4 separate regions of the Homo sapiens genome follow, and regions 1, 2 and 3 are each linked to region 4. The links come from fine-mapping of genetic effects on gene expression. A gene starts in region 4. Each other region holds a variant in brackets. All regions are shown on one strand. Distances are between the middles of the regions. Region 1 has its middle 33 kb from the start of RNF216. Region 2 has its middle 22 kb from the start of RNF216. Region 3 overlaps RNF216 (ring finger protein 216). Region 4 holds the start of RNF216 (ring finger protein 216).

What was found.
Region 1: its variant is fine-mapped to the expression of RNF216 in whole blood (TOPMed, PIP 0.93).
Region 2: its variant is fine-mapped to the expression of RNF216 in whole blood (TOPMed, PIP 0.93).
Region 3: its variant is fine-mapped to the expression of RNF216 in whole blood (TOPMed, PIP 0.98).

Annotation. Positions count from the first base shown.
Region 1 is chr7:5,811,084-5,819,188 of GRCh38, forward strand. No RefSeq gene overlaps it. Among named protein-coding and RNA genes, the nearest start is that of RNF216, 33 kb to the left of the region's middle. The variant TATATA/T (reference allele first, on the strand shown) is at 4,356.
Region 2 is chr7:5,799,240-5,807,344 of GRCh38, forward strand. No RefSeq gene overlaps it. Among named protein-coding and RNA genes, the nearest start is that of RNF216, 22 kb to the left of the region's middle. The variant C/T (reference allele first, on the strand shown) is at 3,240.
Region 3 is chr7:5,688,020-5,696,124 of GRCh38, forward strand. All of the region lies in intron 13 of RNF216 (ring finger protein 216), which reads right to left. Among named protein-coding and RNA genes, the nearest start is that of RNF216-IT1, 12 kb to the left of the region's middle. RefSeq lists enhancers at 7,197-7,436, 8,066-8,105. The variant G/A (reference allele first, on the strand shown) is at 4,572.
Region 4 is chr7:5,777,338-5,785,442 of GRCh38, forward strand. It overlaps RNF216 (ring finger protein 216), which reads right to left and starts at 4,326. Exons shown (of 17, transcript NM_207111.4): 1 at 4,204-4,326. RefSeq lists a silencer at 3,735-4,124.

The sequences.
Region 1 (8,105 bases), 34 kb after region 4:
ACAGGCATCCTCACCCTCTTGATCAGGGCTGGCTTTGCCATAGATTTTAGCCATGGATAAACTGAGCGTGAGGTCTTGGGTGCAGACAGAGAAGGAAGAATAAGCTTTGTGTGAAAAGTTTCAGAGGAAGTTTGCCTTTTCTTTCTTTCTTTCTTTCTCTTTTTTTTTTTCAGATGGAGTCTCACTCTGTTGTCCAGACTGGAGTACAATGGCGTGATCTCAGCTCCCTGCAGCCTCTGGCTCCCAGGTTGAAGCGATTCTCCTGCCTCAGTCTCCCAAGTAGCTGGGATTACAGGCGTGTGCCACCAAGCCCAGCTAATTTTTTTTATTTTCACCATGTTGGCCAGTGCTGGAACTCCTGACCTCAGGTGATCCACCTGCCTCAGCCTCCCAAAGTGCCGGGATTACGGGCGTGAACCATCGCACCCGGCCAGAGGAAGTTTTTTTAAAAAAAAGTATACTTGCTGCTTGACCTGGGCGACCTCATGGTGACAGCTAGCAGAGTGGACAGCATGATTACTTGTGTCTTCAGGGAAGTGGCCGGTGACTGCTGTTTCGCAGGGGCCTGATGGTCTGATGGGTAGATGGCTTGCCCAGAACCGCTGGCTGGCAGAGAGACCCAGAAAGTTTGAGTGCTCTGGGACGTATCAGAACCTTTCCTATTTGCAGTCCAAGGGGAAGGGGATTGAGTGAAAAGAGACATGAAGGAGCTTTCTGGGAGCATGGACACTGCTGTATCCTGATTGTGTTTCATTTACATGGGTGTCTAAACCCATCAAACTGCACGCTGAGGTCCTGTGTGTTCGCATACAATGTACAGTTCATCAATAAAAGCAATCCTTTAGCTCTTCTAGGATGAGAAGGGAGGTGAGGGATGGGCGATGAGGACAGAAGTGGGAATGTGATGATCTTCCTGCCTCAGCCTCCCAAACTGCTAGGATTACAGGCGTGAGCCACCATGCCCAGCCTATTTACTTTTAAGACAGAGTCTCACTCTGTTGCACAGGCTGGAGTGCAGTGGTGCAATCATAGCTGACCGCAGTCTTGAACTCATGGTTTAGAGGAGGTTTGCTCAAGCAATCCTCCCACCTCAGCCTCCCAATCAGCTGGGACAACAGGCATACATCACCATGCCTGGCTAATCTTTACATTTTTTGTAGAGATGGGATGTCGCTGTGTTGCACAGGCTGGTCTGGAACTCCTGGCTTCAAGTGCTCCTCCCACCTCAGCCTCCCAAAGTGCTGGGATTGCAGGCCTGAGCCACAGCGCCCCACCAAGACTGGAGTTTTGAACTACAGTGGTTTCCCCTCTTACTAACAGTCAGTTAGCCGAGGTCAACCGCAGTCCAAAAATACTAAATGCAGAAAAGAGAAAGCAATCCTTCAGACTAGGCAGGGAGAAAGCAGCCTTGAAGAACCACTGGAGAGCAGCCTCTCCTGTCTCTGAACAAGACTGTTTCACGTGCTAGAGAGCTGGCTTAGCATTTGCTACAGTGTGCATTCCCTGCTTTTGGGGGGCAGGGCATGAAGCTTGGGCTTGGGTTTCATACACACGACCCTGCAGGAGCCTCTGAGGATGTCAGTGCCAGCCTCACCCTCCTTTGCCCTCAGTCCAGGCCATCTGAGTTTCTTGTTCTCTTTCCTTCCAGGACTGGGACACAGTGTCCAGAGAGCATAGCATTGGAGTAGGAGTTTGGGAAGCAGATTTCTAGTCCCTACCTGGTATGGTTAGGGTTTGGGTCCCCACCTAGAATCTCATCTTGAATTGTAATCCCATAATCCCCACGTGTCAAGAGTGGGACAGGTGGAGGTAAACGGATCGTGGGGGCAGTTTCCCCCATTCTGCTCTCGTGATAGTGAGTCTTGAGGTGTCCGATGGTTTTATATGCACTGGTATTTCCCCTGCTTGCACTCACTCCATCCTGCTTCCTGAGAAGGTGCCTGCTTCTCCTTTGCCTTTCACCATGACAGTAATTTTCCTGAGGCCTTCCCAGCAATGTGGAACTGTGAGTCAATTAAACCTCTTTCCTTCATAAATTACCCAGTCTTGGGTTTGTTTATTTATTCTTTTTTGTTTTTGTTTTTGAGTCCGAGTCTCACTCTGTTGCCTAGGCTGGAGTGCAGTGGTGTGATCTCAGCTCACTGCAACCTCCGCCTCCTGGGTTCAAGCGAGTCTCTTGCCTCAGCCTCCAGAGTAGCTGGGACCACAGGTACTTGCCACCATGTCTGGCTAATTTTTGTATTTGTAGTAGAGATGGGGTTTCACCATGTTAGCCAGGCTGGTCTCGAACCCCTGACCTCAAGTGATCTGCCTGACTTGGCCTCCCAAAGTGCTGGGATTATAGCCGTCAGCCACTGAGTATTTCTTTCTTTTTTGAGACTGAGTCTTGCTCTGTTGCCCAGGCTGGAGTGCAGTGGCGCGATCTCAGCTCACTGCAAGCTCCGACTCCCAGGTTCATGCCATTCACCTGCCTCAGCCTCCTGAGTAGCTGGGGACTACAGGTGCCCACCACCACGCCCGGCTAATTTTTTTGTATTTTTAGTGGAGACGGGGTTTCACTGCGTTAACCAGGATGGTCTCTCTCTCCTGACCTCGTGATCCACCTGCCTCGGCCTCCCGAAGTGCTGGGATTACAGGCGTAAGCCACTGTGCCTGGCCGAAGGGTATTTCTTTATAGCAGTGCGAGAACGGACTAATATACTACCTGGCCACTAACTTACTGAACATTGGCTAAACAATCTGGGCTACAGTTTCCCCAGGTGCAGAACAGGGTTAGTTGCTCTCTCAGGGCTACCATGAGGGGACAAAGCTCACTGGAGGTGTCCTGTATACAGAGGTGAAACAGGTGCTCTGCAGAGGAGACAGGAGGCTGCCTTATGATTAAAAAAAAAAAAAAAAAAAGGGCAGGGGGTTGTTGAAAAAACATTGGCAGCCACCAGGCAGTCAGGAGCCTCCATGGCTTATATTTTTGGAGGAATCAAGAAATTCATCTTGGTGGCTCACACCCGCAGTCCTAGCACTTCGGGAGTCTGAGGCAGGAGGATCGCTTGAAGCCTGGAGTGTAAGACCAGCCTGGGCAACAGAGTGAAACCTTGCCTCTACAAAAGATACAAAAATTAGCCAGGCATGGTGGTGTGCGCCTGTAGTCCCAGATATACTTGGTAGGCTGAGGTGGGAGGATCTCTTGAGTCCAGAAAGTCGAGGGTGCAGTGAGCTATGATCGCGCCACTGCACTCCAGCCTCAGCAACAGAGTGAGACCCTGCTTCTAAAAAGTGAAAAGGAAAACACTGGAATATAAAAATGTATTATTTATATGTAATATATAATATGTATTTTAGGCCCAGTGCGATGGCTCACACCTGTAATCCTAGCATTTTGCGAGGCTGAGGTACACAGATCACTCGAGGTCAGGAGTTCAAGACCAGCCTGGACAACATGGTGAAACCCCTTCCCTACTAAAAATACAAAAAAAATGGCCAGGCACAGTGGCTCACGCTTGTAATCCCAGTACTTCGGGAGGCCGAGGCGGGCAGATTGCCAGGTCAAGAGATGGAGACCATCCTGGCCAACATGGTGAAACCTCATCTCTACTAAAAATACAAAAATTAGCTGGATGTGGTGATGTGCACCTATAGTCCCAGATACTCGGGAGGCTGAGGCAGGAGAATCACTAGAACCTGGGAGGCAGAGGTTGCAATGAGCCAAGATCGCCCCACTGCACTCCAGCCTGGGTGACAGAGCGAGACTCTGTCTCAAACAAAAAAAATTAGCCAGGCATGGTGATACATGTCTGTAATGCTAGCTATTTGGGAGGCTGAGGTGGGGAGATCACTTGAACCTGGGAGGCAGAGGCTGCAGGGAGCCCAGATTGCCCCACTTTACTCCAGCCTGGGTGACAGAGCAAGACTCTCAAAAAAAAAAAAAAATGTGGCTGGGCACAGTGGCTTCTACCTGTAATCCCAGCACTTTAGGAGGCCGAGGCAGGCAGATCACGAGGTCAGATCAAGACCATCCTGGCTAAACGGTGCAGCCCCGTCGCTACTAAAAATACAAAAAATTAGCCAGGGGTGGTGGTGGGTGCCTGTAGTCCCAGCTACTCAGGAGGCTGAGGCAGGAGAATGGTGTGAACCCGGGAGGCGGAGCTTGCAGTGAGCGGAGACTGCGCCACTGTACTCTAGCCTGGGTGACAGCAAGACTGTCTCAAAAAAAAAAAAAGATATTATCCGTTACATATTACATATGACATAAACTATATATTTATAATATGAACTATGATGTAAAGATCTTTATAATATAAAACATTTTATATAATATACAGTATTATAGTATATAATACAAACCATATTATATAAAA[TATATA/T]ATACAAACGATATCATATAAAATATATTTTGTAATTTATATATAAATAGCTTTGTATTTATATGTTTTTATATAAATATGAAAATCTGCTGGGTGTGGTGGTGTGTGCCTGTAGTCCCAGCTACTTGGGAGGCTGAGGCAGGAGAATCACTACAACCTGGGAGGCAGAGGTTGCAGTGAGCCAATATATGTAATATATATAAACATTTATATTACATATAAAATATATTATGCAATATATTACATATAAATAACATTTTACATTACATATATAATTTTTTTTTTCTGAGGCAGAGTCTTAACTCTGTCACCCAGGCTAGAGTGCAATGGCGCTATCTCAGCTTGCTGCAGCCTCCACCTCCTGAGTCAAGCGATTCTCCTGCCTCAGCCTCCAGAGTAGCTGGGATTATAGGCACCTGCCACCACACCCAGGTAAATTTTGTATTTTTAGTAGAGACGGGGGTTTCACCATGTTGGCCAGGCTGGTCTCGAACTCCTGATCTCAGGTGATCCACCCACCTTGGCCTCTCAAAGTGCTGAGATTACAGGTGTGAGCCACCGTGCCTGACCTATTTTATATTTATATTTTATATATCTATATTTTTATATTTTACATACAAATATATTTTATATTATAAATATATATATATTCGTTATATATAATATAAAATATCAAACCATGGAGACAATGTTAAGCATCTTCCTAGTACATGCCCCTGATAAAATGCCATTTTTCCTGTTATTTTTTTCCCAGTGGAGACGTGGAAACAGGATGGCACAGAAGACGCGGAATGAGCCAGTGCGGTTAACAAGAGGAAGCACATGAATTGGAAAGTTCAGTGAGCTCTTGTTTAGATAATAGGATCCATATATCACTAGTGATATTTTCCTTCATTCTCTTGTGATCCATAGATTCCTTCTCCCTCTCTTCCTTTCCTCCCTCCCTCTCTCTGTTGGCATTTTATTTGTAGAAAAAAGTGTAGAATTTGTTACACCCTGGATTTTGCAGATTGTCTCATTGTGGTGTCATTTGACATTTTTCTACTGCCTTGTATGTCCTGTAATTTGTTAATTAGATCAAGAGGCTTAGACTCAAGTTCTTTTTTTTTTCCAGGATTACTTATAGGTGATGTTGTATACAGCCATGTAGATGGACAGGGTGTCTGGTTTTCTTATTTTTTTCAAAAAGATGTCAGCAGTCATTGGTGATCATTACCTAAGGGTGTTTTTGTTTGTTTTTGAGATGGAGTCTCGCTCTGTCACTCCAGCTGGAGTGCAGTGGCACAATCTCAGCTCACTGCATCCTCCGCCTCCCAAGTTCAAGTGATTCTCCTGCCTCAGCCTCCCCAGTAGGTGGGACCAACGATATTAATAATCATATTGCATGTGAATGTCTTAGTATGACTTTATATGATTGATAGTAGCAGGATGATACTTTATGTTTACATTGATTTGTTACAACATACGTTTATTCTGCTTTTCAAATAAATGGAAAAAATGAACATCTATAAGCAGGGATATATATATATATATATATATATATTTTTTTTTTTTTTTTTTTTTTTTTTTTTTTGAGGCAGAGTCTCACTCTGTGGACTGCAGTGGTGCGATCTTGACTCACTGTAACCTCCGCCTCCTGGGTTCAAGCAATTCTCCTGCCTCAGCCTCCTGAGTAGCTGGGACAACAGGCATGCACCACCACGCCCCACTAACTTTTGTATTTTTATTATTTATTTATTATTTATTTTTTTTGAGATGAAGTCTTGCTCTGTCACCCAGGCTGCAGTGCAGTGGCACAATCTTGGCTCACTGTGCAACCTGTACCTCCCAGGTTCAAGCAATTCTCCTGTCTTGGCCTCCCAAGTAGGTGGGGTTACAGGTGTCTGCCACCACACTTGGCTTATTTTTCTTTGTTTTTGGTAGAGACAAGGTTTCACCATGTTGGCCAGGCTGGTTTTTGAACTCTTGACCTCAAGTGAGGTCTGCGTCAGCCTCCCAATGTGTTGGGATTACAGGCGTGAGCCACCGTGCCCAGCCAATAAGCAGGGCAATTAGAGTCCTTTGTCTCCAGCCCTATGCGGCATATCCAGGCAGCTATTACTGCTTATTATTTCTTTTCCTATCCCTAGAACAGCAAAGGTTTATCCTTTGGTGAAATGGGAGAAAATGAAAACATTAACTTCAACACTATGCGTAGTTTAACTCAGGTGGGAGGGAACTCCTGGTTAATATCACTTGTCTGTTTCACCTGTCCCCCCGGCGTTCCCTGCGTCCTATCTTTTCCCTGTGGTGGAGACCGCTGGTTATTTCCCAATATCTGTTCTCTCCTTCTAATGCAATAGAGCCTTCAATTTTTAGCTAGGAGTTGCCCTCCCAGAATGGAGACTCCATTTTCCAGCCTTCTTTGTAGATGGAGGTGGCCACGTAACTGAGATCTGTTCAATGGGATATGAGCAGAAGTGACTTGTGCCTTTTCTGAATCAAGCTCTTAAAAGAAAGGGCATTTGGGCCGGGTATGGTGGCTCATGTCTGTAATCCCAGCACTTTGTGAAGCTAAGGGGGGCAGATCACTTGAGGTCAGGAGTTCGAGTCCAGCCTGGCCAACATGGTGAAACCCTGTTTCTGCTTAAAAATACAAAAATCAGCCAGACATGGTGGCAGGTGCTTGTAATCCCAGCTACTCAGGAGGCTGAAGCAGGAGAATTGCTTGACCCCAGGAGGTGGAGGTTGCAGTGAGTGGAGATCCCACCACTGCATTCTAGACTGGGCGACAGAGCGAGACTCCATCTCAAAAAAAAAAAAAAAAAAATTGGGGTGGGGGGCATTCTGTCCCTTCCTTTTCCCCTCTTACTGCTGGCTGAAATACAGACCTGGCCATCTTGAACCATACCTGCTCTAGGGATGGTAGAGCAGTTTTTTTGTTTTGTTTTGTTTTGTTTTGAGACAGTGTCTTGCTCTGTTACCCAGACTGGAGCGCAGTGACATGATCATGGCTCGTTGTAGTGCTTTGACGTCCTAGTCTCAAGCAGTCCTCCCATCTCAGCCTCTGCAGTAGCTGGGAGTACAGGTGCATGCCAGCATGCCCGGCTAATTTTAAAAAAATTTTGATACGGAATCTTGCTCTGTCGCCCAGGCTGGAGTGCAGGGGCACGAACTCGGCTCACTGCAAGCTCCGCCTTCCAGGTTTACGCCATTTTTCTGCCTCAGCCTCCCGAGTAGCTGGGGCTATAGGCGCCTGCCACCACGCCTGACTAATTTTTTGTATTTTTATTAGAGACGGGGTTTGACCATGTTAGCCAGGATGGTCTCGATCTCCTGACCTCGTGAGCTGCCCGTCTCAGCCTCCCAAAGTGCTGGGATTACAGGCATGAGAAAAACGTTTTTTAGAGATGATGTCTTGCCATGTTGCCCAGGCTGATCTTGAACTGGGCTCAATCAATCCTCCCACTGTAGCCTCCCAAAGTGCTGGGATTACAGGTATGAACCACCAGGCCCAGCTAGAGCACTCATTTGGGAGTCTAGTTTTCTGACTTCTTTGGAGCCACATGGATTTTTTTTTATGAGAAATAATCACTGGTGATTTCTTTTTTATTTTTTTGAGATAGTCTCACTCTGTTGCCCAGGCTGGGGATTAGTGGCATGATCTTGGCTTACTGCAACTTCTACCTTCTGGGTTCAAGCAGTCCTCCTGCCTTAGCCTTCCAAGTAGCTAGGACTACAGGTGTGTACCACCACACCTGGCAAA
Region 2 (8,105 bases), 22 kb after region 4:
AACACAAAGCAATTTTTGTGGTTTTTTTTTGAGACGGAGTCTTGCTCTGTCGCCCAGGCTGGAGTGCAGAGGTGTGATCTCGGTTCACTGCAACCAACCTCCTGGGCTCCAGCGATTCTCCTGCCTCAGCCTCCCAAGTAGCTGGGATTACAGGCACCTGCTACCACGCCTGGCTAATTTTTGTATTTTTAGTAGAGACGGGGTTTTGCTATGTTGGCCAGGTTTGTCTTGAACTCCTGGCCTCAAGTAATCCGCCCGCCTCAGCCTCCCAACGTGCTGGGATTATAGGCGTGAGCCACCATGGCCGGCCTGTTTACCAGTTTACTATAAGGGGCATTACGAAAAATGCAGAGGAATGGCCAGATGCCGAGGCCGAAGGGGCAAGTTTTGTGGGAAGGGGTGGAGCTTCCATGCCCTCTCTGGGTACACCACCCTCCCGGCATCTCCACATGTTCAGCATTGAAGCTCTCCGAGTGCTGTCCTTTTGTTTTGTTTTGTTTTTTTGAGACAGAGTCTTGCTGTGTCGCCCAGGCTGGAGTGCTGTGCTGTGATCTTGACCCACTGCAACTTCTGCCTCCCAGGTTCTAGCTTTTCTCCTGCCTCAGCCTCCCAAGTAGCTGAGATTACAGGTACCCGCCACCGCATCCTACCTAATTCTTGTACTTTTAGTAGAGATGGGGTTTTATCATGTTGCCAGGCTGGTCCTGAACTCCTGACCTCAGGTGGTCTGCGCCCCCCCTTGGCTTCGTAAAGTGCTGGGATTACAGGTGTGAGCCATTGCGCCCGCCAACTCCACATTTTTAAACAAAGCTTCTCTTCCTTAACCAATTAGAAAAAAAAAAAATCTTTGAATCTACCTATGACCTGTAAGCCCCCACTTTAAGATACCCCACCTTTTAGGGCCAAACCAACGTATAGCCTCCATACTGATTTATGACTTTGCCGTAACCTCTGCCTCCTTATCTTCTGTTTTTTTTTTTTTTTTTTTTTTGAGACAGAGTTTTACTCTATCACCCAGACTGGAGTGCGGTGGCGTGATCTCGGCTCACTGCAAGCTCCGCCTCCTGGATTCACGCTATTCTCCTGCCTCAGCCTCCCGAGTAGCTGGTACTACAGGCGCACGCCACCATGCCTGGCTAATTTTTTGTATTTTTTTTTTTTTTAAGTAGATACGGGGTTTCACTGTGGTCTTGATCTCCTGACCTTGTGATCCACCCGCCTCGAGTGCTGGGATTACAGGCGTGAGCCACTGCGCCCTGCCTCTGCCTCCTTACCTTTAAAGACGCCTACCTGCAAGCCAGCAGGGAGTTCTGGATGTAAACATGAGCTGCTCGACTCTCCTTGCGTGGCGCCCTGCAAATAAATGCCCTCTTTTTTCTCACTGCAAACCTTGGTGTGGGTGGTTGGCCTCACTGTGCCAGGCATCTGGACCCCATGAAAGTCGGTCCTTGTTTCCTCTCATTGATTTTTTTTTTTTTTTTTTGGGGGATGGGGTCTCACTCTCTTCTCCCAGCTGCTGGAGTGCAGTGGCACAATCTGCCCACTGCAGCCTCCACTTCCTGGACTCAGGTGATTGTCCCACTTCAGCCTCCCGAGTAGCTGAGACCACATGCATGTGCCACCACGCCTGGCTAATTTTTTGTATTTTTAGTGCAGGCAGGGGTCTTGCTATGTTTTCCAGGCTGGTCTCAAACCCCTGAGCTCAAGCGGTCCGCTCGCCTCGGCCTCCTAAAGTGATGGAGATACAGGTGTGTGCCACCGTACCAGGCCCAAGATGTTATCTTTAATTTCTATAGAGAACTAAATATCTGGTGACTGTAACTCCCTTGGCTATTGGTTTTAAGCTCCTTTTTTTTTTTTTTTTTTTTTTTTTTTGGAGACAGAGTTTCGCTCTTGTTGCTCAGGCTGGAGTGTAGTGGCGTGATCTCAGCTCACGGCAACCTCCGGCTCCTGGGGTCAAGCGATTCTCCTGCCTCAGCCTCCTGAGTAGCTGGGATTACAGGTGCATGCCACCACGCCCAGCTAATTTTTGTAGTTTTGTTTTGTTTTGTTTTTGAGATAGAGTAGTTTTTTTGCCAGGCTGGAGTGCAGTGGCGCCGTCTCGGCTCAGTGCAACCTCCACCTCCCGGGTTCAAGTGATTCTCCCTCCTTAGCCTCCCAAGTAGCTGGGACTACAGTGTGTGCTACCACGCCCAGCTAATTTTTGTATTTTTAGTAGAGATGGGGTTTCACCATGTTGGCCAGGATGGTCTTGATTTCGTGACCTTGTGATCCGCCTGCTTTGGCCTCCCAACGTAGTTTTTAGTAGAGATGGGGTTTTACCATGTTGGCCATGCTGATCTTGAACTCCTGACCTCAGGTGAGCTGTCTGCCGCAGCCACCCAAAGTACTGGGATTACAGCCATGAGTCACCGTGCCCGGTGGATTAAGGCTCTCATACGCATCTTGAGATCGGTTCCTTCTGGCTCTTTCATCCCCTCACAACCCTGTAGTTGCTTCTCTTGTAGTTACCCGCCATGATCCAATGCTATGTAATCGAATCCATGCTCAACACTTTGCTATAAGTGCTAGGCTCTCTCCTGTTGGAAATAAATAATTTCCTTTTTTTTTTTTTTTTTGGAGATGGAGTTTCGCTCTTGTTGCCCAGGCTGGAGTGCAATGATGCGATCTTGGCTCACTGCAACCTCTGCCTCCCGGGTTCAAGCGATTCTCGTGCCTCAGCCTCCCAGGTAGCTGGGATTACAGGTGCCCACCACCATGCCCGGCTAATTTTTTTGTATGTTTTTAGTAGAGACGGGGTTTTGCCATGTTGGCCAGGCCGGTCTTGAACTCCTGACCTCTGGTGATCCGCCCGCCTCCACCTCCCAAAGTACTGGGCTTACAAGTGTGAGCCACCACGCCTGGCCGGAAAGAAATATTTTCTGAGATTTATAAGCTTTTTTAAAAAATTAAGGGCTGGGCACAGTGGTTCACACTTGTAAGTGCAGCACTTTGGGAGGCTAAGGCAGGAGGATTGATTGAGGTCAGGAGTTGGAGGCTACAGTGAGCTATGATTGCACCACTGCACTCTAGCCTGGGAGACAGAGTGAGACCCTGACTCAAACAGTAATTAAATCAATAAAATTTAGAAGTTAAGATTCTTCAGCCTCTTTTGGGCTGGGCATGGTCGCTCAAGCTTGTAATCCCAGCACTCTGGGAGGCTGTGGCAGGCTGATCACTTGAGGCCAGGAGTTTGAGAC[C/T]AACCTGGCCAACATTGTGAAACCCCATCTCTACTAAAAATACAGAAATTAGCCGGTGTGGTGATGCATGCCTGTAATCCCAGCTGTTCAGGAGGCTGAGACAGGAGAATTGCTTGAACTCGGGAGGTGGAGGTTGCAGTGAGCTGAGAGCATGTCACTCTATTCCAGCCCGGGCGACAGAACTAGACTCCATCTCAAAAAAAAAAAAAAAAAGATTCTTCAGTCTCTTTTGATCTTCCTGTGCCCACTTTATGGTGCCCGGAGCTGCTGATGTTCAGATTTGCCATGGGCGGTGCTCCCCTACATCTGAAGATGCAAAGATCTCTCTTCTTCCTTGTCACCTAATCCTGCTGGCCTTCTCAGGCTCATCTGCAGAAGACCCCACTCAAAAGTAGGGTCTGGCCAGCTGCGGTGGCTCACGCTTGTAATCCCAGCACTTTGGGAGGCTGAGGCAGGTGGGATCACCTGAGGTCAGGAGTTCAAGAACAGCCTGACCAATGTGGCGAAACCCTGTCTCTACTAAAAAATATCAAAATTAGCCAGGCGTAGTGGTGGGCGCCTATAACCCCATCTACTCGGGAGGCTGAGGCTGGAGAATAGCTTGAACCTGGGGGTTGAAGGTTGCAGTGAGTCAAGATGATGCCACTGCACTCCAGTCTGGGTGAAAGAGCAAAACTCCATCTCAAAAAAAAAAAAAAAAAAGGGGGGGTCTTCTTCAGAAGATATGTTTGCATGATTTCCATGAGGAAGGCATGTGCTCTGTCCCTTTCTTCCCAATGCTCACTGCGTCTTTTTTTTTTTAATATATGTTTGCATGATTTCCATGAGGAAGGCATGTGCTCTGTCCCTTTCTTCCCAATGCTCACTGTGTCTTTTTTTTTTTAATATATGTTTGCATGATTTCCATGAGGAAGGCATGTGCTCTGTCCCTTTCTTCCCAATGCTCACTGTGTCTTTTTTTTTTAATATATGTTTGCATGATTTCCATGAGGAAGGCATGTGCTCTGTCCCTTTCTTCCCAATGCTCACTGCGTCTTTTTTTTTTTAATAGACTTGACTTTTTTAGGCCAGTTTTAGATTCGTAGCAACATTGAGCGAAAGGTACAGAGAGTTCTCACATGTTCCCTGCCCGTGCTAATAGCCTCTCCCATTATCATCTTCCACCAAAGTGGTACATTTGTTACAATCAGGGAACCTATATTGACATCATTTTCACCCAAAGTCCACAGTTTGCATTAGGGTCCCTCTTGGTGTGGTGCATGTCATGGGCTTGGATAAATGTGTCAGAACATGCATCCACTCTTAGAGCTCTCTCAGAGGCGTTTCCCTGCCCGAAAAATCCTCCGTGCTCTGCCTCTTCATGCATCCCTCCCTTCATGCATCCGTCCCAGGGACAAAAGGTTGTCCCTGGCAACCTTTTGTTTCCAGACCCTAGCAACGGATCCTTTTACTGTCTCCATAGTTGGGCCTTTTCTGAATGTAATATAGTTGGAATCATACAGCATTAATTTTTTTTTTCCACTGAGACAGTCTCGCTCTGTCACCCAGGCTGGAGAGCAGTGGTGCCATCATAGCTCACTGCAGCCCTAACGTCCTGGGCTCAATTGATCCTCCCGCCTCAGCCTTCTGAGGAGCTGGGACTATGGGTATGCGTCACCACGCCCAGCCAAGTGTCCTGGATTTTTTTTTTTTTTGAGACGAAGTCTCACTCTTATCCCCCAGGCTGGAGTGCAATGGCGCGATCTCGGCTCACTGCAACCTCTGCCTTCCGGATTCAAGCAATTCTCCTGCCTCAGCCTCCCAAGTAGTGGGATTACAGGCGCCTGCCACCATGCCCAGCTAATTTTTGTATGTTTAGTAGAGATGGGGTTTCACCATGTTGGCCAGGCTGGTCTCAAACTCCTGACCTCAGGTGATCCGTCCGCCTCGGCCTCCCAAAGTGCTGGGATTACAGGCATGAGCCACCATGCCCTGCCATGTTCTGGATTTTTGTCATCCTAATAGGTTTGTAGTGATATCATTGTTTTAATTTGCATTTTCCCAATGACATACGAAATGAAGCATCTTCTCATATGCATGTTTGCCACCTGTGTATCTTTGGAAAGATGTCTCTTAAGGTTTTTTGGCCCATTTAAAAATCAGGTTGTTTTCCTGTTGTTGAGTTTTAAGAGTTCTTTGTATATTTTGGTTAACAGTCCTTCTTTATCAGCTATGTCTTTAGCAAATATTTTCTCCCAGTCTGTGGCTTGTCTTTTCATTCTCTTGACAACATCTTTCAGAAAGAAGAAATTTTTTAATTCAATGAAGTCCAACTTAGCAATTCTTTTTTTTTTTTTTTTTTTTTTTTTTTTGAGATGGAATTTCACTCATTTCCCAGGCTGGAGTGCAATGGCACTATCTCCGCTCACTGCAACCTCCGTTCCCAGGTTTAAGCGATTCTTCTGCCTCAGCCTCCCGAGTAGCTGGGATTACAGGCATGTTCCGGCACACCTGGCTAATTTTGTATTTTTAGTAGAGATGGGGTTTCTCCTTGTTGGTCAGGCTGGTCTCGAACCCCCGACCCCTGGTTATCTGTCCACCTCAGCCTCCCAAAGTGCTCGGATGACAGGCGTGAGCCACTGCGTGCAGCCCAATTCTTTCTTTCATGAATCCCACCTTTGGCGTTGTATCTAAAAAGTCATTGCCAAACCTGAAGTTATCTAGATTTTCTCCTGTGTTACCTTCTAAAAGTTTTATGGTTTTGAACTTTACATTTAGGTCTCTGATCCATCTGAATTAATTCTGTGAAGTGTGTAAGGTCAGAGTCTGGACTCAGTTGTTTGCATGTGGATGTCCATCCAGTTGTTCAGCAACATTTGTTAAAAAGACCGTCTTTGTCTTTGCTCATTGTATTGCCTTTGCTCTTCTGTCAAAGGTCATTTGACTCTATTTATGTGGGTCTGTTTCTGAGATCTCTGTTCTATTCAATTGATCTATTTTGTTTTTTAAGAGACAGTGTTTCGCCATGTTGTCCAGGGTGGTCTCATTCTCCTGACCTTAAGTGAACCACCTGCCTTGGCCTCCCAAAGTGCTGGGATTACAGGCGTGAGACACTGCACCTGGCTCATTGATCTATTTATCTATTTTTTCACTAATATCACACTGTCCTGATTACCGTAGCTTTACAGTAAGTCTTGAAGTACCATCATACTTTATCAATTTCTCTGTGCCATTCCACCCTTTTTTTTTTTTTTTTGAGACAGAATTTCATTCGTTGCCCTGGCTGGAGTACGATGGTGCAATCTCAGCTCACTGCAACTTCCACCTCCCTGGTTGAAGCGATTCTCCTGCCTCAGCCTTCCAAGTAGCTGGGATTACAGGTGCCTGCCACCACTCCCGGCTAATTTTTTGTATTTTTAGTAGAGATGGGGTTTCACCATGTTGGCCAGGCTGGTCTTGAACTCCTGCCCTCAGGTGATCCACCCTTCTCGGCCTCCCAAAGTGCTGGGATTCCAGGCGTGAGCCACTGTGCCCGGCCTAGTTCCAGCACTTCTAACCTCATGTATTTTGATGCTTCTGTTAGGTGCATACACATTAGGGATTAATTATGTGTTTTTGGAGAATTGACTCCTTTATCATTCTGTAATGCCCCCCCCTTTTTTTTTGGACACAGGGTCTCATTCTGTCACCCAGGCTGGAGTACAGTGGTGTGACCATGACTCACTGAAGTCTGGAGCTCTCAGGATCAAGTGATCCTCCAGTTTTGGTCTCCTAAGTAGCTGGGACTACAGGTATGCACCACCATGACCAGCTGATTTTTTTTATTATTATTTATTGTAGAGACAGGGTCTTGCTATGTTGCCCAGGTTGATCACAAACTCCTGGGCTCAAGCAATCCCCCCAACCACCTTGGTTTCCTAAAGTGCTGGGATTATCGATGTGAATGGAACACCTGGCTGTAATGCCTCTTAAGCTCTGACAACTTTCTTTGCTTTGAAGTCTGCTTTGTTTAGTATTATCACAGTATGGCTTTCTCCACCTCTTTATTTATTTATTTATTCAGAGACGGCATCTCGCTCTGTCACCCAGGCTGGAGTGCAGTGGTGCCATCTTTGCTCACTGCAACCTCCGCCTCCTGGGTTCAAATGATTCTCCTGCCTCAGCCTCCCGAGTAGCTGGGACCACAGGTGCACACCGCCATGCCTGACTAATTTTTGTATTTTTTTAGTAGAGACGGGTTTCACCATGTTGGCCAGGCTGGTTTCGAACTCCCGACCTCAGGTGATCCGCCTGCCTTGGCCTCCCAAAGTGCTGAGATGAGAGGCGTGAGCCACCGTGCCCGGCTGACTTTTTAGAAAAACATCATCTACAAAGCTTCTGGATGTTTTTTCCATTTTATTATGCCTTGTAATTTTTTTCCCGATAACTGGACATAATTTATTGGGTAAAAGGAGCTGCTATAGATAGACCTGGGGGAGAGTGGTGGTAAGGTGTGGTGGGAGGAGAAGCCTTCTATAATGCTCCTCTGAGCAGGTTTTAATCTTTGTTTTAAATTACTATTTTTTAAAAAAGATGAGGTCTCACTATATTGCTCAGGCTGGTCTTAAACTCTTGAGCTCAAGCAATCCTTCCACCTCAACCTCCCAAAATACTGGGATTCTGAGCATGAGCCATTGTGCACAGCCAGATCTTTTTTTCTTGAGACGGAGTCTCACTTTGTCGCCCAGGCTGGAGTGCAGTGTGGCTATCTCAGCTCACTGCAAGCTCCTTCTCCCAGGTTCACGCCATTCTCCTGCCTCAGCCTCCTGAGTAGCTGGGACCACAGGCGCCCGCCACCACGCCAGGCTAATTTTTTGTATTTTTAGTAGAGACAGGGTTTCACCGTGT
Region 3 (8,105 bases), 89 kb before region 4:
TTCACTTTGCTTGATGGAAGGAACTAGCGACCGCAAATGGAACCGAAGAGGTAATTAGAGCAGTAAATAAGCAGCAGCTATTCCTGCTCTATGTCCTGGATTCCCACAGTTGGCTGGTGGGGACACCAGGCTTTCACGCACAGAACTGTGTAAAACTGAAAGCATTTCAAAAATGATTAGTCTTCTTTCGATTACTTTTATATTGAGAGAAAAAGCAGAGTAGAAAGCTGTTAAAATGTAACTAGACAGTAAATTGAGCCAAGGTAAAACCTGTACATAAAAAAACAGACTCACATATCTGGAAATCATAAACAAGGGGCTGCTCTATTTCAGACAAACCGCATGTCAAAGGAAATTGCCCAGCTACACCTCTTTTCTATCCTAAAGCTTTTTAAAAAAATTTAAATGTTCGTATCTCTGTTGACACTAGTGAAAAGAAGAACACATACTGAATGTGCTAAGAAATACAGAAGTTATTATAAACAAAAAGCAAAAACTCCCCTCTTGTCAAGCCTTCCTGTAGCAGTTTGTGTTTCATGCTTAGGTTTTGAAGAAAAAAGTTAAAGGCGCATGTATTTACCAGCTTTATCCTTTACATTTATACAAAGTGAGCAGAAGGCTCACTCTGCGCACCTTACCTTGCTTTACACATCTGACAGTGTATCTTCTGGAGACTTCCTTATCCATACTTATTATCAGGCTTGTCTTATTTTTTTTTGGACTGGGATATCTGTAAAACTGTGGGTGACTTAGGATTGGGCAATTCTCAGTTTATTTAGCTTTCTTATTAGTGAAAGAGTTGCTCTTAATAATATGATACGAATTCCCAAATGATGATAACAGCTACTAACATTACTGTGCAAAGCACTGTGTTCTTCAATATAAAGTTTAAGTCTGAACTCAAATGTTGACTGAATGAGAGAAGCGGGAAAAATATTCACAAAACTAGGTAAAGGAAATACTCCTTTTTCTTCAAGTGGATCTGAGAAGCCTGGCATCTTACTTGGTTCTGCTGTGGCTTCCTCTCTCATAAAAGAACAGGCTGCCGATTCTGTGAAACAAAATGATATCCTATTATATGGCACCACCATCAGTGCCTTGTGAGCCAATATGCAGAACCAAAAGCACAGGAGGGAGGTGGAAGGGGGTCCTGGAGTGCAGCGCTAAGGGTCTGGGGAGGTGGATGCTTGACGGGGGCAAAGGGCAGGCCTGGCTCCAGAAGCTGATATGGCAGCATTTTGGCTAGTTTGTGAGGTATAGGAAAAGTGACAGAAGTTACGCTCAGTTTTTGTAACCATGACTCACTCCAAGACTTTCTCAACAATAACCATATTTGTAGTATTAAAAAAAAAAAAAAAAAGAAAGAAGAAGAAAAGTGAAAGGCAAAACATCCAAAGCCGAGGAGGCAGGGCGCCTAGAAACCCACATCCCTTCTGTTGTCAAGTGATCAATAATTTCCCACTTTCTGGAGGCCATTTTCTAAAAAAAAACAAAAAACAAAAAACCCTAGGCTTGTAGTCAAGTAGTTTTCCTTTTCTCTTGGACTTCCTACAAGTTTTTAAAGCATAAGAAATGTAGTTTTAGGGCTGTAATTACATGATAGACTTGAGTAAAATCATTTAGATATGCAGAGTTTAATAAATAGTACAAAGGCCAGGCATGGTGGCTCACGCCTGTAATCCTAGCACTTTGGGGAGGCCGAGGCAGGTGGATCACCTAAGGTTAGGAGTTCAAGACAAGCCTGGCCTGCGTGGCAAAATTCCGTCTCTACTAAAAATGCAAAAAAATTAGCTGGGTGTTATTCCAGCCACTTGGGAGGCTGAGGCAGGAGAATCACTTGAATCCAGGAGGCGGGGGGTTGCAGTGAGCCAAGATTGCGCCACTGCATTCCAGCCTGGGTGACTCTGTCTCAAACAAAAAAAAAAAAAGAACAGAAAAGAGAAGAGAAGAGGAGGGCAGGTAACCCCCCTTATTTGCCGAGTTCACCTGTATTATATTTTACTTACATCTTTAAAGGTTTTATGGCCAGGCGCGGTGGGTGGCTCATGCCTGTAATCCCAGCACTCTGGGAGGCTTAGGCGGGCGGATCACCTGAGGTCAGGAGTTTAAGACCAGCCTGGCCATGGTGAAACCCTGTCTCTACTAAAAATACAAAAAATTAGCCAGGCATGGTGGTGCACACCTGTAATCCCAGCTACTTGGGAGGCTGAGGCAGGAGAATCTCTTGCACACAGGAAGCGGAGGTTGCAGTGAGCCAAGATCGCGCCATTGCACTCTAGCCTGGGCAACAAGAGTGAAATTCCATCTCAAAAAAAAAAAAAAAAGATTTTAAAGATCCTTTTTACTTCCTGTTTCTCTAAAAGCATGGTTAGCAATGCTCAGAAGCTAGGTCAGTTTTGGTGACTGACTGCTTTGTTAAGGTTTCCCAGGTAGTATTAAAGACCTGGAATCTATCAGCTGCTGCCACAGAATGAAATTCTCCTCTCCCTGCACCATCTACCACTTAGACCAGGGGAGGAGGCGCCACCTTCACCTCCCCTAGAAACTTCAGCAGCTCCCATCAGCAGTGCTTTCCCTGTACATCTGCAAGCATCACATAACCCTAAATAGTAAGCAGGACTGGCACTGTTATCCCATTCTACAGAAGAGCAAACAGAAGTCCACAAAGGCAGTGGGAAGTGCCCAGGGCTAGTGAGAGGTAGAGTGAAGATCTCGCCCTTCTCTGCTGATGCTCCTGCAATACAGCCCACACTAGAGCTCATGCCCCGACAGCCTGCAGGGATGTACACACGCATGTTCTGCCAGGACAGCTCTGCCACACCAGCCTGACACTTAATAACACATACGCACATGTGTAAAATGTACACATTCATCATGGAATTGCGATTTGGGGGCTGAAGACAACCTACAGATGAGTCAACTTGGACCCTGTGGTTCAGGGCTTATCCAGCACACAGCCAGGAGAGGCTGAAGCTCCACCTCCACACACCCCCTGCAGCACCTTTTCTGCCTGTCGTCTCTTCCCAGCTCACACAGCCGTGCAAAGAACTCTGTTCTCACGGGTTGATCTGCCATGTTTTTAAGTTCCGACAGAAGCACACCCATTTCTCTAACCGTGTGTGTAGACGGTGAGCCTGGGTGATCAACGTGACAGCACTTCTGCTCATGCCAACAGGGTGCTCTGCCAGGTCTACCCATGGTGAAGGGGAGACAAGCCACCTGACACCTCGCCACTCGGGCCGACGGCAGCATTTGACTGCTAGGACACTGTCTTGTGACCCACTTTACTCACTGCTCCTTACTTCTCAGTTATAAGCAGTAATTAGTAATGTCAGTGTTCCTGTTCTGGCTGGATTGCTCCTGGCTGGATTGCTCCAGGCCCATTAATGATACAAGAGCAGGAACAGATGAATGCGTAAGTGTACAAGAGAGGTTTCAAGGTTAAAGGCAGTAATGGAGAGAGCTATGGTGGGGGTGGGGAAGGCAGTGCTGGTGTGTGTAGAAGAGAAGGGGAGAGGGGGAATGTGTGTGTGAGAAAAACAGAGTATGTGTGTTAGTTTTAAGTCTATTCTTTAAAATGCCCAGCTTCTCCTTAGGGGCAACATGTATGGCAAAGCACAACTTCTTAGCGTCCTCAATCAAGTGAAGTAGAATCTTCTATCTGGCATGGACACATGGTTCTGGCCACCCGGCAGGGAGTCCATCAGTACTAACTCTAGACACCGGAGAGTTACTAGTGTATGAAATTGAGGTCAGAGGAAACTACACCAATATCTTTCAAACATATTTTCGATGTTTTAAATAACTTCTCTTACAGAAGGCAATGTCTGCTTGTTCAGCAGAACTGCTACCTTCCCACTTAATGCTTTTACAGCGGAAGTCAAGACAAGTAATGAAAGACAGACCCCAGGGGCCGACAGTCAGGCCCTCCTACTCTAGTGGAAGAGATACAATACTTTATATTGTTACAATTGCCTCTGCATACCTACAAATCTCCATGTTTTCAAGGAGGGATTTCAAAAGGTATAATTTCCGACATTCCTACCCAGAGTTTTGCTGAAAAATAGAATGACAGCAAGTAAGCCCGCAAATCATGCCTGGAAAAGGCTTAGCACGGCTATTTGAAAAATATTTGCTTGGGAGCTGGAAGAGGGAACTATGAATCGAGGCTGGCAGCCAAATGGGAATTTTTTAGTTGTTTATATGTACACTGCCTTCTAAGCAGACAAGGATTTGCCACTAAGCCTTTTACTTGTTCCTCACATACCAAAAGCTAACTGTTACACATACTAGGAAAGTAACAACTTTATTTGCTGATTTCACAACCCAAAGCAGACATTTTTAAAAAGCGGTCATAGCAACGCCGGGTGAATCAGAACCCATCCTTGTTAGTCAGACATACTCTGTGGGAAAAGGCAGCAGTTGGAAACAGTCTTGAATTCTAACTACTAAAAGCCATACTAATTCCCGCGGGGCCCTGACTTCTGGTCCAAGGTTTCTCACTGGCTGTATCCTGTCCGACAGTGCCAGAGCTTGTGCTGCAAGCAGAGCCCGTGCAGAAGGCGAGCGAG[G/A]AGAAAGGCAGAGCTGCTCAGTTCCAGCTCCTTCCACACACCACAAAACGCCATCCCTCGCCTCCAGCCCGAGGCAAGGCACTCCTTTTTAGGTGGTAAAATAAGCCTTCCAACACACCAGAAGAAATAGCTTGGAGTTTGAAAATACACAAGCATATTTTAATAATCACATTTCTATTTTTCAAGTTCTCTTAATACAAACAAAACAAAAATTCTTTTGCTCATGTTCAGACATGACTAAGTTAATGACAATGGGTATACAATGTGACACATGCACACTCCTCCCTTAACCCTTGGTGAGCATCCTCAAAAGCGATTCACTGCTACCCATTTCTTATCTATCCTTCCAAATAGATTTTATGTCTGTGTCAGCAAGCATCTCTTCCTCCTCCCATTTAAGACACAATTGTGGGCATATTGCACCCATTGTTCTACGTCTTGCTTTTTTCACTTAATATCTTGGAGACAGCTCCATATTTGCACAACGGGATTCCACGTCATTCTTTTAAACGCTATGGTATATGCTACGGGTTGGCAAACTACAGCTCACTGGCCAATCTGGCCCTCTGCCAATTTTTGTAAATATAATTATACTGGGACACAGCCACATTCATTTGTTTACATATTGTCTGTGGTTACTTTCACGCTATAAAGGCAGAGTTAGGTAGCTGGGATAGATACCATATGGTCCGCAAAGCCTGAAATATTTACTACCTTGCCTTTTACAGAAAAAGTCTGCTGACCCCTGGTATGGATGTTTACAGAAAAAGTCTGCTGAACCTCAGTATGGATGCTGACCCCCCGGTATGGACCTCCACTGTACTGAGGTACCAAAATGTACTGAAATTGTTCCCTGCTGATGGGTATTGCATTGGATTTCCTTAAGAATAAAATTAAACTCCTTTAATGCTAAGAAGCTCCAAGACATTTGAGGAAGGAAAGAGCAGGAACTAGCTAGGAAGAAGCCGGCATGAAGAAGCCAAGCTTAAAGAGGGAACTTCAGAGCAAGCTACAACCTCCCCAAGTGTCAATTCCTCTTTTTAGAGGAAGTAAGAAGGGAACTGTAGGTCTTTTGATAAGAGGAAATTCCCCTTTGCTATATCAAAGCTGCTCCCTGTGCTTGTGTTGTTCTAAAGTTAGGCAAGACTGCCTGAAGCATACTGTGACCAAATTAGGAAGCAAGAAGGCTGATGTCTCTAAAGCTGGTCACCCATGGCCAGGCAGCCCAGGCATGCAAAGACAGAGATGGACGCGGGTAGAGACTCTCTGGCCAACAAGGAGATGCTATTTGCTTAAGAAATCAGCCTTAAAAATGACACAACGAAAATTAATAACTGTTCTATAAGATGGAATTCACTTGCTGTTGTTGACCAAAAAAACAAAGGCTTCCAACATTTCCACAAGCAAAGAACATGAGAGAAGCACAGTGAGACGAATGCTCCCAGGCATCATGGGTTTATTCCAAAGGCAGTAAAGGTCTTGGAAAGTGCCAAGGAAATTATACCACTTAGCTCTTTGATAGATCAAGATAGTCAGTTTTACACTATTGAGAAAAGAAGAATCCAGAAAGGTCTTACTAAAAAGGGCATTTTGTAAACTTTCCATTTTAGGACGGCCTACTCAATTTCTTTATTTGCTGGAACAGTTTTCAAACAAGTCTTTCAGCTTCAAAACAAGGTCTAGGTATGCAGTACTTGAATCATTCACACTGAGCTTGCTTCCGCCACTGCTACTCAATGATATTCTCTTTAAGGAATGACTTCTGAGTTAACTTTTGATTCAGATCCAATGAGCTCAGAATCTATTCTGACCACGAGCACTATCTGGGTAATAACATTTGACCTTGAAATCCCTGCTTTCCTCCAAAACTTCCAGATCAGCAAGATTCTTGGACACAATTTTTATTCCCTTGGCAATGTGCTTAGTTCAGTTCCAACATCTGCTATGAGATCAGACAGTCAGAATTAAGGTAAGTTTAAACGACAAAACAAATCTCAGTTCTTGTTTATAGGAAAACCTTCAAGGGCTCCAAGCCAAAGGATGAGGCCCACTTGTGGCGCAATTTGAGGACCTGCCTGCCCTGGAGCAGAGATGTGTATGGTGGCCATGCCCTTCAGCCTATGGAAAGTACATTCTCTGTAGCTGCGTAGCTTGTGTTGGGCTGGTCTCCTGGTCTGCCAGGGTGCACTGGGCAGAAATTTTACAGCCACTCTCTCAAAGTGTTCTAGGTGTTGTCAAAATAGCTAAGCATTTGTCTACTAACTACTCCTGTTTTGATTTTGAACATTTATTTATAATCATCTAAAGGACCCAAGCATTTTATAGAAAAGACAATATACTTTCCAAAGACCCTGGTTAACTGACATACAAATCCACCAACTAAGAACTGTATTTCTATTAGTTAAGGCTTCTGTGGCTCAACTTTAACTGAGCCAAAAAATACACTAATGGGCCAATGGGGACACAGATGGGTTAGGGAACTACCCCTGAACCCAAAGTTCATATATAGCCAAGAAGTTCAATGACTTCAAGCTACACGAAGTTAGCACTTAACCTATCCACGGTTCTTCATCTGTACAACAAGCATGTCTGGGTTATATGACCTCCTGGGTCCGGCTTATAAATCTAACATCTACAACTGCAAGTCAAGAGTACCAAATACCAATATACAAAACCACCTGCGCAGACCCAGTGCAGCAACTTGTACCAAGGTTTGAACCACACATTCACACGTCCAGCAGCCACAGAGACGAAAACGACACGCCAGCCTGTCCTGACCTCACACTCCCCAGTCTGAGGGCCCGGCAGAAGCGCCACATCGCCTTCCTCTCCTGTTTTTTCTTATGGCTGCTGCTGCCTCGGAGCCCGGACTAAGCAAGGCTGTTAGGCACGGGGTGAGCACGGTTGCGCCTACTGCTGAGAGTGCCTCTCCCTGCCGGTCTCCTGCTCTCTCTCTGCAGAGCAGAAGACACCGCAGCTATAGACAAGTTCTATTGCCCTTTTATGGTAGAAAAATGAATTGCTTGCTAGCAGTGGTGCCGAGAGAGATGACAGAATGGAAAGTTGTCATTTGTTGTGGTTTTGGCAGCCACAGAATAGTGTTCTCCCCTAGTCATCCTCGGATGGATGGTGCACACCAGGCATTCACAGAGGGAAAAGCAAAACCCCTGGTCAAACTGTTCCCTTATGTGTTCTTCCCTTGCTTTGCCTGTAAACGGATGTGTTTATTTATGAACAGTGTCAAGCCCCATTGTGGAAATGTACTTTTTACAAAACAAGGTATCAAAAGGCTGTTTGTGTTGCACTGAAAGACTAAGCAGAGGTGCCACAGAAAACATGTTTCCCGTCAGAACGCATCCAAGGAACAGACTTCATTTCCTCACACAACAAGGATGTAGGACTAGGCTGGGAAGGGAGGGTACCCCACTTGAAGGAGGGGCTGTGGCTCTCAGCACAACCCAGCACGGCCTTGATCCCTGACTCCCAGGAGGCACGGAAGGACAAGAAAGCAGCCACCAGCTCCAGACAAATCCA
Region 4 (8,105 bases):
CAGATAACTGAAACAGAGCTCAGATTTTATTTTCTAGCCAATGGGAAGCAATGCAATGACAGCTGTGCTTTAGAAAAATCAACCTGGCTGCAATGTGTAAGATGGCATGTAGGAGACAACCGGTGCCAGGAAACAAGAGCCAACAGTACCTAGGGGGAGGAGAAGAATACAAGACACTGACTGCAGAGTTAGAGTCGATGGGATCTGTGTATGTCACTGGCCATCAGGGCAAGAAGAAAGGAATCAAAGTTGACCTAGACGCTGAGATCAGGTGACCACAGGATGGTGATGCTATTAAGGAAGAACAAAGCAGATGATGAGTTCAGAGAAAGAAAACGAAAATTGTGTTAACTTTAATATGTGGACAAAATATGGTAAAATAACATCCATCATTATGGATATAAATATGCAAACAATTAGTCTAGAGTTTAACAGCTCTAAGAATCCTATTATCTGTGTATTTTTACAATAGGAAAGGTTTTAAATCAAAAATTAAACTCAAAATCTTCAGTGGGCGGGCTAAACAATTTAACATAAAACATCAAGATTTTCTTCAACTGTCCAATGAAAATTAGTTTAGAAACTAGGACAGATAAGTAAGTACATCCTCATGTGTGGAGGGTAAAATCAACGTTTTCAACGATCTTTTTAGAACTGAATCTTCTGTGACCAAAGGACATGCTTCTGCTTCTAGCCCAAGTACTGCCTTGCAGGCTCCATCCCTTGACATGTTTTCATACGGCATTTGAGTTATTTCTTTTAAACCACAAATCTCACCATGGTGAAACCGAAATCCTTACCATGGCCTACAAAACGCTACCATCACCTGACCTTGCTGACATAGCGGGCCTTACCTCATACCTTTTCCCCCCGCATTCACCATTCAGTAGTAACAATGGTTCAGTTCCATGACTTGCTCCTTCCTTCCACTGCAGGCTCTTCCCCAGCTAAACTACTCTTCTTCACTGCCTCTTGGACCAAATTAACTCTATTCATTGTTCGGTTCTTTGCTTTCTCCTCAGAGAAAAATTGTTCCTGATTATCCCCTAGATGTTCCTCCCTGGTTCAATCACACAACGTACCTCATTTCTTCAAAGTACTTCCAACAATACTTTAATATACTTATTTAGGAAACTATGTGTAATTTTGGTCTCCTCTGCTAAAACTTAAGTTCCAAGAAGGCAGAACCAAAGTGTCACTTGATCCCAAAGCCCCAGGACATAGCATATCGGATGGCACAGTAGATGATCTTCAATAGTAGATGTACTTTCAGAATAAATAGCACTCACTAATTATAGAAGGATAATTAGTGGCATGAACTCTGGGTCCAAACTGAGTTCAAGTTCCACGCTGACCCTTACAAGTTTTGGGACTAGATATTTTTCAGCACCTCAGTTTCTTTTTTTAAAATTATTATTATTTTTGAGACGGAGTCTCGCTCTGTCACCCAGGCTGGAGTGCAGTGGCACAATCTCGGATCACTGCAACCTCCGCCTCCCGAGTTCATGTGATTCTCCTGCCTCAGCCTCCCCAGTAGCTGGGATTACAGGCGCACGCCATCACACCTGGCTAATTTTTGTATTTTTAGTAGAGACGGGGTTTCACCATGTTGGCCAGGCTGGTCTCGAACTCCTGACCTTAGGTGATCTGCCCGCCTCGGCCTCCCAAAGTGCTGGGATTACGGGCGTGAGCCACACCATTCCCAACTATGTTCTATTATCTTTAACAATAATGCAAATATAATGATATCAGGTATGAGAATGAATTATGTCTCTAAAGAGCTAGAATATAGCAATGCCTAGAATTTTGTAAACACATTAAATAGTAGCTGGTAGTAGAATCAGCAAATACCAGCTCTCTCAACTATCCTATTCATCAACTTTCGATCTGCCTCACTCACACCTAACCCTTCTTTATCAGATTTCTCCACAGGGGCTTCAGGAGTTCTCTTTTATTAGCTGCTGCTGCTCTAATCAGGGTAAAAATCTAAAGCCTCGAATGAGGTTTGCCAGGGGGTCCAAAATCTGGCCCAGACTCTCCAGGCATTTCCTCAAATCCACCACTACTCCCCACACCCCAGGCGCAATAAATTATGAAATACAAAACCAAGGCAAAGCCAGGCCATGTATTAGCCTTCTTCCTTAAAGCAAGCCGACTAAATTGAGATGTTTCATAGAATCTTCCCGCTTCTCTCCCTTCTCAGCGCGTAAAGAATGTTCTGGCAGAGCACGGTGGCTAAAGCCTGTAATTCTTGTGCTTTGGGAGGCTGAGGGTCACTTAAACCCAGGAGTTGGGCAGCACAGCTAGACTCCGTCTCTTAAAAAAAAAAAAAAAAAAAAAAGTTAGCCGAGCGTGGTGGTGCGCGCCTGTAATTCCAGCTACTCGGGAGGCTGAGGCAGGAGAATTACTTGAAGCTGGCAGGCGGAGGGTGCAGTGGGCAGAGATGGCACCACTGCACTTTAGCCTGGGAAATACAGCCAGACTCCGCCTCAAAAAAAAAAAAAAAATGCTCAATGAATGGGCTGGGGTGGGTGGGGCAGAGAGGAGCTGACGGGACATACTACATCTAAAACGCCACTGTTTCCGAGGGACGCGGATATGCTCTGGTCCCCCACCTACATCCCATTCAGTAAACAAAGGTACCCACCGAAACATACAGCAGCACAAACCCATTTTTATAAGACCCTGTGCCTGACTATTGCAGGAAGATGGAGGACAAACAACAGCTGGAGAATAGATGAGCTGATGTTTGGCTCCTAACCTCTAAAACAATGCCAACCCAGCCCCTTCCAGGAGTAACAGCTTGAAAACAATACATGGCATTTAGATAGTTTTTAGCATTCCTGGCAATTCCGTTACTAATTCATGGGTCTTCCTCACAAGGGAAGAAACCCCATTTTTGAGGCACAGGCCCACCAGGGCAAAATGACCTGGCCAGGCTGGAGCCAGGTGCATGTGAGGGCCACTGTGAGGCCCTCTGCTCTGCTCACCCTCTACGTCACAGTGCTTCTTCTGTAGGTGAACGTGTGGGTTTTCAGCCAGGGCGCTTCTTACTGAAGGGCCCGAGGGTCCCGGAGAACATATCTGAAACGTCTTTTGAAAAGACTGTAGCACTTTGGGAGGCCGAGGCGGAGGGATCACCTGAGGTCAGACGTTAGAGACCAGCCTGGCCAACACGGAGAAATCCCGTCTCTACTAAAAATACAAAAATTAGCTGGACGTGGTGGCAAATGCCTGTAATCCCAGCTGAGGCAATCCCTGTGAGGCTGAGGCAGGAAAATCGCTTGAATCCGGGAGGCAGAGCTTGCAGTGAGCCGGGATCGCGCCACTGCACTCCAGCCTGGGCAACAGAGCAAGACTCCGTCTCAAAGAAAAGGAGAAAAAAAAAAAAGTAAAAGAAAAAAGAACGTTCTCTTTGCACGATCTAAGTACCTAGGACAGCTGCTACCCAGGCCCTTAGGGATTTACAGAGCCCTGTCGGATTTGTCAGAAATTTCTGTAACCCGCACGCCGCGCACGCTCCAGGGTTGGTTGCAAGTGGCCCAGAGTCTTGGATCCCTGGTCCTGTTCCACCGGGAGCAGAACCACCTCGACGCGGGGACAGCGGCCTCGCTCGCTGCCCAGCGCCCGGACACCCGAGCCGGGCCAGCCCCCAGCGCCCCGCAGAAGGGTTTGACGCACTTGCGGCGCCCTCGCGAGTGCCGGGTGACAGTCGCCAACTTTCGCGGAACACGCGCTCCAGATGTGAGGGAAGAGGAGGAAAAACGCCGCCCGCCTGGGCTGGGGTTCACAGGCACGGCCCGCCTCCCGCCGCTCCTCCAGGCCGCGCTCGGGTGCACGGACACCGCCTCCGCGGCGGCCTCGGGCCCGGGGGAGGGAAGCGCGGTCTCCCGGGCTGTTGCCCTCGCGCAGCAGACCCGAGGGGCCGGCCCGCGAAACTTCGCGAAGTGGCGAGAGGGGGCCACCCGGCCGCTCAGCGCCTTTGTCGCTCCAGCCTCGCCACCGCACCGGGCTCGAGACGCCCAGCCCAGCCCCTTGGCCCGATCCCGCCCGGGCCTCGGCCCGCGCCCCTCAGCTCGGCGGCCCTCACGGCCCGCGCCCCCGCCCCCACCCCCGGAGCTCCACAGAGGCGCCCCTCAGAGAGGCCGCGTCGCCTCACAGACCCGCCCAGGAGCTCGAGCGCGCCCCGCAGCCGACACTCACTCGTCACTCAAGTCGCCGGCTAGCCAGGCAGGTTCGGCGGCCTTCGCTACCGCGCCGCTTACTCCTCAGAAGCCGCAGCTGCGAGCTCCGTGGCAGCCGCTGCACTCCTTCCGGCCCTGCCGCGGCGTCACCTCGCGCCTGCGCACAGCGCCCCCTCCCGACTAAGGACAGGAAGAACCATAGAGGCACTCCGGGTACTGCGGAGGAGGGACCGGGGGGCTCACCATAGAGAGGGCCGCCTAGTCGCGCCTGCATCCGGGCTCTCCGCCTGCGGAGACTTGACTCCCCCACGAGGCAGGAGGGTGAAAGGAAAGGAGACCCCCATATCCGACCCCACAAGGAGCCACCATCTCCCCAGAGCTGAAAAGGGTATGGGGCAGGTGGTTGTGGATGTTTACTCGATATCTACTGATTTGCCCTAATTCGTTTGGCAAGTCATTCATTCATTCTGCAAATATATTCTGCGGATTTCCTGTGGGCCACACACTGTTCTAGGAATTGGGGAAATTAAGAGTAAAGTGGGTCCCATGGCTGGGCACAGTGGCTCACGCCTGTAATCCCAGCACTTTGGGAGGCCAAGGCGGGTGGATCACTTGAGGTCAGACGTTGGAGACCAGCCTGGCCAACATGGTGAAACCCGTCTCTACCAAAAATAAAAAAATTAGCCAGGCATGGTGGCGGATGCCTGTAATCCCAGCTACTCAGGAGGCTGAGGCGGGAAAATCACTTGAACCTGGGAGGCGGAGGTTGTAGTGAGCCAACATGGCGCCCCTGCACTCCAGCCTGGGCAACAGAGCAACCCTCCATCTCGAAAAAAAAAAAAAGTAAAATGTGTTCCTGGCCTCAGGAAGTTTAGGTTTTAGTGAGCAAGTGAATAACTGACTAAAATACTGCTCCTGCTGGGCACAGTGGCTCATGTCCATAATCCCCGCGCTTTGGAAGGCCAAGGCAGGAGGATCGCTTGAGGCCAGGAGTTCAAGACCAGCCTTAGCAAAATAGCAAGACCCCAACTCTTAAAATAATTGCTGGCCAGGCGTGGTGGTTCACGCCTGTAATCCCAGCACATTGGGAGGCCGAGGCAGGCAGATCACTTGAGGTCAGGAGTTCGAGACCAGCCTGGCCACCATGGTGAAACCCCGTCTCTACTAAAAATACAAAAATTAGCTGGGCATGGTGGTGCGTGCCTGTAATCCGAGCTACTCGGGAGGCCGAGGCACAAGAATTGCTTGAACCGAGGAGGGGGAGGTTGTAGTGCAGTGATTATGCCACTGCACTTCAGCCTGGGTAACAGAGTGAGACTGTGTCTCAAAAAAAAAAAAATTGCCAAGTACACCTTCAAGTAGAGATATCAAGTCAGTAATTAGATAAATGAGTCTGGGCTGGGCATAGTGGCTTATACCTGGAATCCGAACATTTTGGGAAATGGAGGTGGGAGGATGGCTTGAAGCCAGGAGTTTGAGACGATCCTGGGCAATAGAGTAAGACCCCATCTTTACAAAAATAAAAATTAGCCGGGCATGGTGGTGCGCACCTATAGTCCCAGCTACTCAGGAGACTGAGGTGGGAGGATTTTTTTGTTTTGTTTTGTTTTGTTTGTTTTGTTTTTTTGGACAGAATCTCACTCTGTCAGCCAGGCTGGAGTGCGGTGGCACGATCTTGGCTCACTGCAACCTCCACCTTCTGGGCTCAAGCGATTCTCCTGCCTCAGCCTCCTGAGTAGCTGGGATTACAAGCATGTGCCACCACGCCCGGCTAATTTTCGTATTTTCAGTAGAGACAGGGTTTCACCATGTTGGCCAGGCTGGTCTTGAACTCCTGACCTCAGGTAATCTACCCACCTCGGCCTACCAAAGTGCTGGAATTACAGGAGCGAGCCACTAAACCCGGCCAGAGGATTGTTTGAGCCCAGGAGTCCGAGGCTGCTGTGAGCTATGATTGCACTGCTGCACTCCAGCCTGGATGACAGAACAACAGCCTGTCTCAAAAGAAGCAAACAAAAACAAAACAGGGAAATGAGAGGAACAATAGTCTTGATGCGGCAATGAGTGTTCCTTCTCTAAGACAGTAGAGTGTGGCTTATGGGGGCTTGCATGGGACAGAAAAAGACCACTACTCATAGTGCTTTGGGGAACAGTGTCCTGAGGGAATAGTCATGTTTCAGTGAAGTAGAAATTGAAGGGCTGCTTACAGAACAGGACGAGGATCTAGGGATCTTACAGATGTCAGGCCCTGAGTTAGAGGGTGCAGTGCATGGGAGACATTAGAGGGTGAACAGGAGAGAGAGTTTAAGATAGATACTTACCTGAGATGAGATCCTGGAATCACCTGGAAGGTAAAACAAAGGCATTGGCCTTGATGAGCTTATCCTCCATGCTGGTCCTCTTGGGGGAGGTGGATAATCGCTGTCAGTTACAGCCTTCTTCTTAGGATGGTCCTCATAAGCCCTTTGAGATGTTGGAAGAAAGCAGTATTGGAAGGAGAGCTTGGTGATCTTAGCAGGAGTGCAAGGTTCTTTCCGGACCACTGAACCCCTCTGTGGTTGGTGTCACACCCAAGGCAGGTGCGATCGAGTAACCTCTCTGAGTCTAGCTTTTTTTTTTTTTTTTTTTGAGATGAAGTCTTGCTGTGCCACCCAGTCTGGAGTGCGGTGGCGCGATCTTGGTTCACTGCAAGCTCCGCCTCCTGGGCTCACGCCGTTCTCCTGCCTCAGCCTCCCGAGTAGCTGGGACTACAGGCGCCCGCCACCAAGGGCTAATTTTTTTTTGTATTTTTAGTAGAGATGGGGTTTCGCCGTGTTAGCCAGGATGGTCTCGATCTCCTGACCTCGTGATCCACCCGCCTTGGCCTCCCAAAGTGCTGGAATTACAGGCATGAGCCACCGCACCTGGCCTGAGTCTGGAATTTTTTATTTGTTCAGGCTTTTTGGAGACTCTGACTCAGACGTGATGGCAATGAGAAGAGAGACTTTATTTTTGTCTTTATTTATTTATTTTTGAGACGGTGTCTCCTTCCATCGCCCAGGCTGGAGTGCAGTGGCACGATCTTGCCTCACTGGAACCTCTGCCTCCCAGGTTCAAGCGATTCTCCTGGCTCAGTCTCCCAAGTAGCTGGGACTACAGGCACCCACCATCACACCCGGCTAATTTTTAAAATATTTTTTGTAGAGACGGGGTTTCACCATGTTGGCCATGCTGGTCTCAAACTCCTCACCTCAGGTGATCTGCCTGTCTCAGCCCAAAGTGCTGGGATTACAGGTGTAAGCCACCATGCCAGGCCTTTATTTTGAAGTTTAATTTAAAAAAACATTAATAGATAGCCAGGTGTGGTGACACATGCCTCTAGTCCCAGCTACACAGGAGGCTGAGGCAGGAGAATCACTTTAACCCAGGAGGCAGAGGTTGCAGTGAGCCGAGGTTGCGCCACTGCACCCCAGCCTAGGTAACACAGCAAGACTTCGCCTCAAAAAAAAAAAAAAATTATAGAAACAGAGTCTCGCTTTGTTGCCCAGGGTGGTCTCGAACTCCTGGCTCTAAGTGATCCTTCCATCTTGCCCTCCTAAAGTGGTGGGATGGCAGATGTGAACTGCCATGTCTGGCGGGGAATTTTTTATTTGTAAAATGGGAATTTTAAGATATTATCTATTGCCCGGTGTTCTTGCAAGGATGAAATGGGATCATGTGTGAATTGAGAAGCTCTCATAGGAGTTATTTGTTTACATGCTCTTCTTGTCTTAAGCATTTTCGGAGTCATAAAGACAACTATCATATCTCTGCATTTTTCCCAGTGAGGGCGAGAGGAAGCTACTCCCTCCTTCTAGGTTGTCTGGAATCATTCTGGTTACTTTTGAACTGGAATCATTCTGGTTACTTTTGAACTGGAATCATTCTGGTTACTTTTGAAGC